Linked DNA regions of Homo sapiens. The protein of the gene in region 1 purifies or fractionates together with the protein of each later gene. This does not show direct contact. Each region holds a gene or a part of one and is shown on either strand. Other genes may lie near its edges.

Evidence for each region. Proteins that work in one complex are often made in the same cells at the same time.
Region 2: the proteins of CTRL (region 1) and PDIA5 purify together in Homo sapiens (affinity purification with mass spectrometry, with the first as the bait; one large-scale study listed by BioGRID). This does not show direct contact.

Annotation. Positions count from the first base shown.
Region 1 is NC_000016.10:67,929,074-67,933,110, reverse strand, and holds CTRL (chymotrypsin-like protease CTRL-1 precursor), read left to right. Parts: upstream 1-1,248; 5' UTR 1,249-1,258; coding exon 1,259-1,310; intron 1,311-1,909; coding exon 1,910-2,013; intron 2,014-2,111; coding exon 2,112-2,191; intron 2,192-2,303; coding exon 2,304-2,385; intron 2,386-2,522; coding exon 2,523-2,703; intron 2,704-2,792; coding exon 2,793-2,926; intron 2,927-3,015; coding exon 3,016-3,177; 3' UTR 3,178-3,537; downstream 3,538-4,037.
Region 2 is NC_000003.12:123,070,025-123,073,524, reverse strand, and holds part of PDIA5 (protein disulfide-isomerase A5 precursor), read right to left. Parts: intron 1-3,500.

The DNA of each region.
Region 1 (4,037 bases):
TGAGCCACCGTGCCCAGCCAATTCATCTCATTTTTTGGCTGATGCTGTTTCTTTGAGATGGGGTCTAGCTCCATCGCCCAGGCCGGAATGCAGTGGTGCACTCATGGCTCACTGCAGCCTTGAACTTAAGGGCTCAAGTGATCCCTCCTGCCTCAGCCTTCTGAGTTGCTGGGACTACAGGTGTGTACCATCATACCCAGCTCATTTCTTAATTTAAAAAAATTTTTTTTGTAGAGACAGGGTTTCATGATGTTGCTCAGGCTGGTCTCGAACTCCTGGAATCAAGCCTCCTACGTCTGCCTCCCAAAGTTTTGGGATTACAGGTGTGAGCCACCACACCCAGCCCTGATCTGTTCTTGAATCAGTTAAAGCCCTCACACTCCCAGAAGGCCGCCAGCCAATGCACCTGTTGGAACTTTGCACACAGGGTGTCTTCTCCCTTCAAGCTTGGTCTGCAGCTCAGTAACAAATGGGCTACAGACACCAGGGGCTTGCCCATGGGAGCCCCAAGGCCTAAAGAGGGTGGCAGAGATTTGATGTCTGTCACTCTCCACCTGCAGCCTCAGTCCACGGTCGGCCAGGCACCAAGAGCTCACACTTTGCCCTCCTAAATGCCAGGCCCTTCATAAGTATCATCTCATTGTTAAGAGCGGAGGCTTCAGCGCCAGACAAATGCGAGTTTGTGTACAACTCAACCACGTGCTGGTGGGAGAGTCACCATCTCTGAGCAGACCTGTGACTCCTGTTCCAAATGGACGAGGAACCACTGCGATGATGTGTTAGGACTCCCAGCCTGCCAGAACCTCACAGCCCCTGGCCCTTCACAGCAAAGTTGACCGCAGTGAGCATTCCATCCACCAGTCAGAACACCCTGGACGCTGAGCGGCCTTCTCTGAAAGCCTGGTGCCTTTGTTAGCCCTGGGTGACTCCTGTGATCCCAGCCACCAGGTTGTCACTATAGACCTAATTTAACCATCTGTCCTCAGTACCGAGGGCTCAACATTTGGAATGGGAGGTGGTTCTGGGAGCCAATTAGAGGCCAGGCTTTGGGAGGTGGCAGAGGTGAGTCTCACACCTGGGCTCTGTCTGATAAGTCTAGGTCTCGGTCAGGGGACCTTGGCCTAAAGGGCCTGTCTTGCCTGGAGCGTGGGAGGGGGCTGAGTCTACACAGCTGGCCTGGCCTCAGGCCTGGAGCTTTAGCTCAAGGACGAGAAGACCCATAAAGCCAGACCCAGCTCCCAACCTCACATCTGCCACGATGTTGCTGCTCAGCCTGACCCTAAGCCTGGTTCTCCTCGGCTCCTCCTGGGGTGAGTGGGCCAGGACCAGCCCTGATTCAGCCCTGGGAGCAACTCAGCTCCCAGCAACAGCCCAGGGAAGGAGCTAGGCTGGCTGGAAGGGACGAAGGTGGACAGAGTGGGCAAAAGAAACAGGATATGCCAGGGCAGTGGAGCAGGGAACAGGCCTGCAGGGCTGGGAGGGGGCAAGAGGTGGGGTGGTCTCACAAATAGGACCAGAGATTGAGCCAGGCCCTGGAGCCCGGGAGGGTTTAGGAAGCTGAGACAGGAAGACCTGTCCATGTCTTTTAGAAAGAACCTTCTGGCTGCATGAAGGGTATGAACTGTTCAGGTCGGGAGGGGGCAGAGAGACCAGGGGTAGAGATGGGGAACAGCGGGGACTAGGCTGGAGACAGATGTAGGAGAACAGCAGGGCTGGGGGACTGGGTGGATAGGGATAACCAAGATAGCTGTGGGGCCCGAAGGTGCTTGCATGTACCCTGTTGGGGAAGGGGTAGTGCTGTACCCTCTCGACAGACCTCTCTGGGGTGCACAGCCTGGGGCACCCAAAAGGAGGTGGGGAAAGATGGGCTGAGGCATGGGAAGCAGGTCCTCATTAGCCCAATGGCCAGGCTGCGGCATTCCTGCCATCAAACCGGCACTGAGCTTCAGCCAGAGGATTGTCAACGGGGAGAATGCAGTGTTGGGCTCCTGGCCCTGGCAGGTGTCCCTGCAGGTACACCACCAGAGGGGTGGGCAGGGTCCTGGGTACGTCATGCCTAGGGGCAGCCTCAGCAGCCCACCCCCACTCTGACCTCTGAGCCCTGACCACAGGACAGCAGCGGCTTCCACTTCTGCGGTGGTTCTCTCATCAGCCAGTCCTGGGTGGTCACTGCTGCCCACTGCAATGTCAGGTGAGTGCCTGCATTCCACCTGCCCCGCCCCTCGCCTCTTCCTGCCTCCTCCCCTGGCTGTCCCCCTCTCGCGCTGGCCTCCCTGCAGCTGCCTAATCCCACCCCCTTGCAGCCCTGGCCGCCATTTTGTTGTCCTGGGCGAGTATGACCGATCATCAAACGCAGAGCCCTTGCAGGTTCTGTCCGTCTCTCGGGTGAGTGCCTGGGCTGCAGACACGGAGGAAAAGTGGGCAGTGCAGGTGGGTGGGTGCTGGGAACGAGGAATTCAGGACATGCCCTGGCCTACCCTGCTCAGCACCCATCAGAACATGGACTGTTTCTGACCCCACAGGCCATTACACACCCTAGCTGGAACTCTACCACCATGAACAATGACGTGACGCTGCTGAAGCTCGCCTCGCCAGCCCAGTACACAACACGCATCTCGCCAGTTTGCCTGGCATCCTCAAACGAGGCTCTGACTGAAGGCCTCACGTGTGTCACCACCGGCTGGGGTCGCCTCAGTGGCGTGGGTAGGGACTCAGGCCAAAGCTCAGGGTGGGAGGACTGGGGTGGGGACCAGTGTTCTGGGCCCCATGTGACCACCCCTCCTGGCCCACAGGCAATGTGACACCAGCACATCTGCAGCAGGTGGCTTTGCCCCTGGTCACTGTGAATCAGTGCCGGCAGTACTGGGGCTCAAGTATCACTGACTCCATGATCTGTGCAGGTGGCGCAGGTGCCTCCTCGTGCCAGGTAAGCCCCAGCACCCGCTCCTCTGCGCTGTCCTGTGGTATACCTCCCCAACCCCCCCTACTCAATTCTCCCTCCCTCTTCCCTCTCAGGGTGACTCCGGAGGCCCTCTTGTCTGCCAGAAGGGAAACACATGGGTGCTTATTGGTATTGTCTCCTGGGGCACCAAAAACTGCAATGTGCGCGCACCTGCTGTGTATACTCGAGTTAGCAAGTTCAGCACCTGGATCAACCAGGTCATAGCCTACAACTGAGCTCACCACAGGCCCTCCCCAGCTCAACCCATTAAAGACCCAGGCCCTGTCCCATCATGCATTCATGTCTGTCTTCCTGGCTCAGGAGAAAGAAGAGGCTGTTGAGGGTCCGACTCCCTACTTGGACTTCTGGCACAGAAGGGGCTGAGTGACTCCTTGAGTAGCAGTGGCTCTTCCTAGAGTAGCCATGCCGAGGCCGGGGCCCCCACCCCTCCTCCAGGGCAACCCCTTGGTCCTACAGCAAGAAGCCAGAACTGTTGGAATGAATGGCAGCCCTCCCTGGAGAGGCAGCCTGTTTACTGAATACAGAGGATACGTTTACAAACTGAATACGCATAATAAATAACTGCACATTCTCCATCCACAGGCCATGGCATGAAGGCCCAAGTGGGTCTATCAAAGGCCCACATCTCCAAACCCCCTGTCCTGCCCTCAGGACCAGGCCCACCCTGGGCAAGAGAGAACGTAAGCCCCAGGGCTTCAGGTCCCCAGAGACACTTGGGGAACTGGGGGGAAATTCTGAGGCCATGGGGCTTGGTTCTCCACTGCCTCCTGCCCAGGGGGCATTGGGGACGGTAGGAGGATGTGTCTAAGGCATAGTCGACTTGGCACAGAGTGGTCTCTTTAGTTTTGTTTCCCACTGGAGGTGGCACATGCAGGAAAAGGGCCTGGCCCAGGCTGCCGACCGGCAGAAGCTGAGTGGGAACCAAACCCTCCTGCAATGGCAGGGGCCCTGCCGTCAAGCTAAGGCCAAAGCTGGGCCCTGGCCCCATTCTACCCACTGAAGGCAGCTGTGGAGGAAGGGGCTTGGGTTCCAGCCTGGTTTGTGGTAGGGGGAGATACCACAAAAGAAATGGGGA
Region 2 (3,500 bases), on another chromosome or scaffold:
GGGGACAGTGAACTGGAGCTCCTTGGGGGAAGGATACAGTCAGCATGTACCTGGCTGGCCACCCCTGTCCAATGCCAAAGCCACCAGGGAGCAGCTGAAAAGCAAGTTTCAGGGACACTCCTGGAAAATGGCTGCCAACGCAGCTGCTTACACATTCAAGCCAGGCACTGAGAACTCTGACTGTGGTCCCCACCTATCTCTTTATGCCTTCATCTTCCAGGCCACAGACACCTCAACCTCGTCTAAGGACATGTTGCTTCCCACCTCCCTGTCCAGCCACCCATCCCTCTCCAGGGATGATGGTACTGGGCTAGCCTACTCACCTCACCAAGTTACATGGGGCTCAAAACCACACCGTCGTGAAATACGTGGAAATGCTTTGCAAACTCTCAAGCCCTCTACAAATGCATCCGATTTGACAATTCTGCCAACAGATCACACGGGGAGCCAGAGGCTCCAGGCAGTGCTGAAAGATGGCCAGGCAGAAGGAATGGGCCAGCCCACCAGGGCTGAGCACTCCTGCTCCTTCCCTCTCCCGTTGGGACCTAAGATGCCAGGTGTTAAAAACAACAACACCACATACACACACACACACACACACACACACACACAGAAGGAGAGGTAGGGGGCAAATAAACCATCCCAAGTCCAGGTTATGTGGAAGAACCTCCGCCTCTCCTTATACCCCATGCATTCATTTCTGGCCCATTGTCACTCAGCCTCAAAGGCTACCACAACCACCAAGCAAGACACAAGAGCCCAACAGAATAAAACCACAAAGCTGGGGCAAAACCCTCCTGGGATACAGTGTGTTTGGTGTCTTCATTCTCAAGAGGGGATCTACTTTCAGAAGAAAGGGGAGAGAAACCAAGCACACTTACATCCTGAGCCCTTCTGCACCACCCCCCCTACCTGGGATCTCTGCAGCAGCCTGGCAGAGAGGAGGCAAGGAGGCAGTCAAGAGCTCAGCTCCAAGTAACTCCCGTGGGGAGAATCCTAGCTGCACAGGGGTACCCGTACCTGGCATTCAAATCATGCAGCCTCTCTCTGGCCCTTCCTTGCCCACCTCCTCCTCTTAACTGCCTTCCCCATCATCTCTTACTCAACAACTGGCAATGACTGCTGAGACTCCCAGTGACTGGGCACTTTCACGTGCCAAGCGCTGTGTTGGGTGCTTCCTGTATTTTTTCTAATCCTTTCAACACTGCAAGATGGATATCATTACCACCACTAACAAACAAGAAAACTGAGGCAGGGCCCAAGGTCACGCAGCTCCTGAGTGTCTAGCTGGCTAAAAGCCCATGTTCTTTCCACTACATAACACTTGAATTTATCTTGTAGATAACAGAGAGGAAAGTAAGGATGAAAGTGTTGTTCTGGGAAAATTAGTCTCTCCCCCTCCCACCCAACCCTACATGCGGCCTGATTGATCTTGTTATTAAAAGGGCAGCTTTCATCAAGTCTCTCCATTACCTACAGAATCGAGTCCCCCACAGCTTTGCCAGGCATTTAAAGTTCTTTACGATCCACTTTTTCAGTCTTACTCCCCTCATCCCCAGACTCAAACCCTCCCTCCATCCAGCCTGGCCTATCATTCCTCATTTCCCATGTCTCTGGCTTGGAAGGTTTCCTTCTCTGCCTGTGACATTAGTTCCATCAGCCAAACACGGACCGGGGCTGACGACATGCCAGGCCCTGGGCTAGGTGCTGGGGACACTACAGCCAGGACAGGGGGCTCCCTGCTGTCACAGAGCTCCAAGTCTGCCCTCCTTGTGAGGCCAGTCCACACCTTGCTCTTTCCTGGGGCCTTCTCTGATCACTCGGTGTCCCACTGCTTGGCCTCGTCCTGGATCCCCAGCACACAGGGGCTGCCACTCTTATGGCACTCAGCCACACTTCCACCTTATATGCCGGGTCTGTTTTAAGACTTCCGCTGTAATGTGTTTATTTCTGTGGGAAATGTGCACTACAGGTTCCAAACAGCATTTTAAATGGCAATTCAGTCCTCAGGCCAACCCACAAAAGCCTATTAAATATATAATCGTCCCAGAGAAGTACAGAACCTAAATAAGTGTACCTTAAAAGCTCTACAGGAGATGCCAGGAACAAACATCTGCCTCCTGCACCTCCACCCACTGTCCTCCAGGGTCTGAGCTTCAAGCGACCATCAGGGGCAGAGGCAGAGAAGCAGGCGGGAGATGGATGAGTGGGAAGAACCCGATTTACATTCAGCAGATCTGGCTCTTCTCCCAGCTCTGCCTTCACTAACTGGGTGGCCTTGAGTGAGTCCCTTCCCTCCCTAAGCCTCGCTATTCTCCTATAAAAGGAGAAGGCTGAGTTAGATCAGTTCTGAATCTCACAGATCAGCAGAATATATATATTTTTAAATATAAAATGGATTTTATATTATTAAAAATAAATTTTATCAAGAAAGGGCTTTTAAAAAGAAATCACAATATACTACAACCAGCCTCATTTTTCAAAGGGATGCTGTAACCCCCTCCCCCTCAAAATATCGTCATGTCAGAAAAATTGACAACTTTTTAAACTGAAAACATTTGCATTCATGAAAAACAAACAAACAAAAAAATACACCATTTTTTTTTTCCAGTTTGACTGCAGACCAGAAAACTCTATCCCAGCCCAGCTTCAGTCCTTGGCCCAATGCTTGAGAACCACTGAGCTAGGAGACCTAGAGTTCACTCCAGCTCGACGTTTCTCCATCCTACAGGCTGGATGGAGCCAACAGGACAATCAGCATGGACGGCCCTAGAGAAGAGTCAGCTGCAGGGATGAGCTGAGCTGGACAGCAGGAAAGCAGGCAGTCAGCGCAGGGATGGGAGCAGGGCAGCATGGCTCGGCAGGGATCGCCCTGTGCCCTAGGGCTACCTCCTGCCCCTGTGTCCAGGAGCACTTGGCAGGGAGGGCACCGCCACCCATAGCCTCTGAGGGCACAGACACCCAGCCTGGAAGCTCTTGGAACTAACCTGTCCCACGTGTTTGACAGTGACACCTTCCTCCCCAGTATTCTTTTGGAAGGCTAAGGGTTCCCAAAGCAACATTTTAAAAAATCTTTATTAACTTTTCTGATTATAAACTAATACATATTCATGTGAAAAACTTGGAATCCACAGAAAAGCATAAGCAAAGAAGCAGAAGTCATCACAACTCCACCTTCCAGAACAATGACTGTTAACATTTTGATGCACTAATTCTTCATACATGTAACTTCAGCCACCCTCAGATTTGGTTTTACATCCTGCTTTTCCCTTACTTATCACACTTGGGCATTTTTCCACATCCTTAGATATTCTTCATAAACATCATAAAATGTTTTCATAATAAACATAATATTCTGGTAAATAAAAATATTCTTTATAAACATTGCAATGGACTGAATATTTCTTCTTCTTCTTCTTCTTTTTTTTTTTTTTTGAGATGGAGTCTTGCTCCATCCCCCAGGCTGGAGTGCAGTGGCGCGATCTCAGCCCACTGCACCC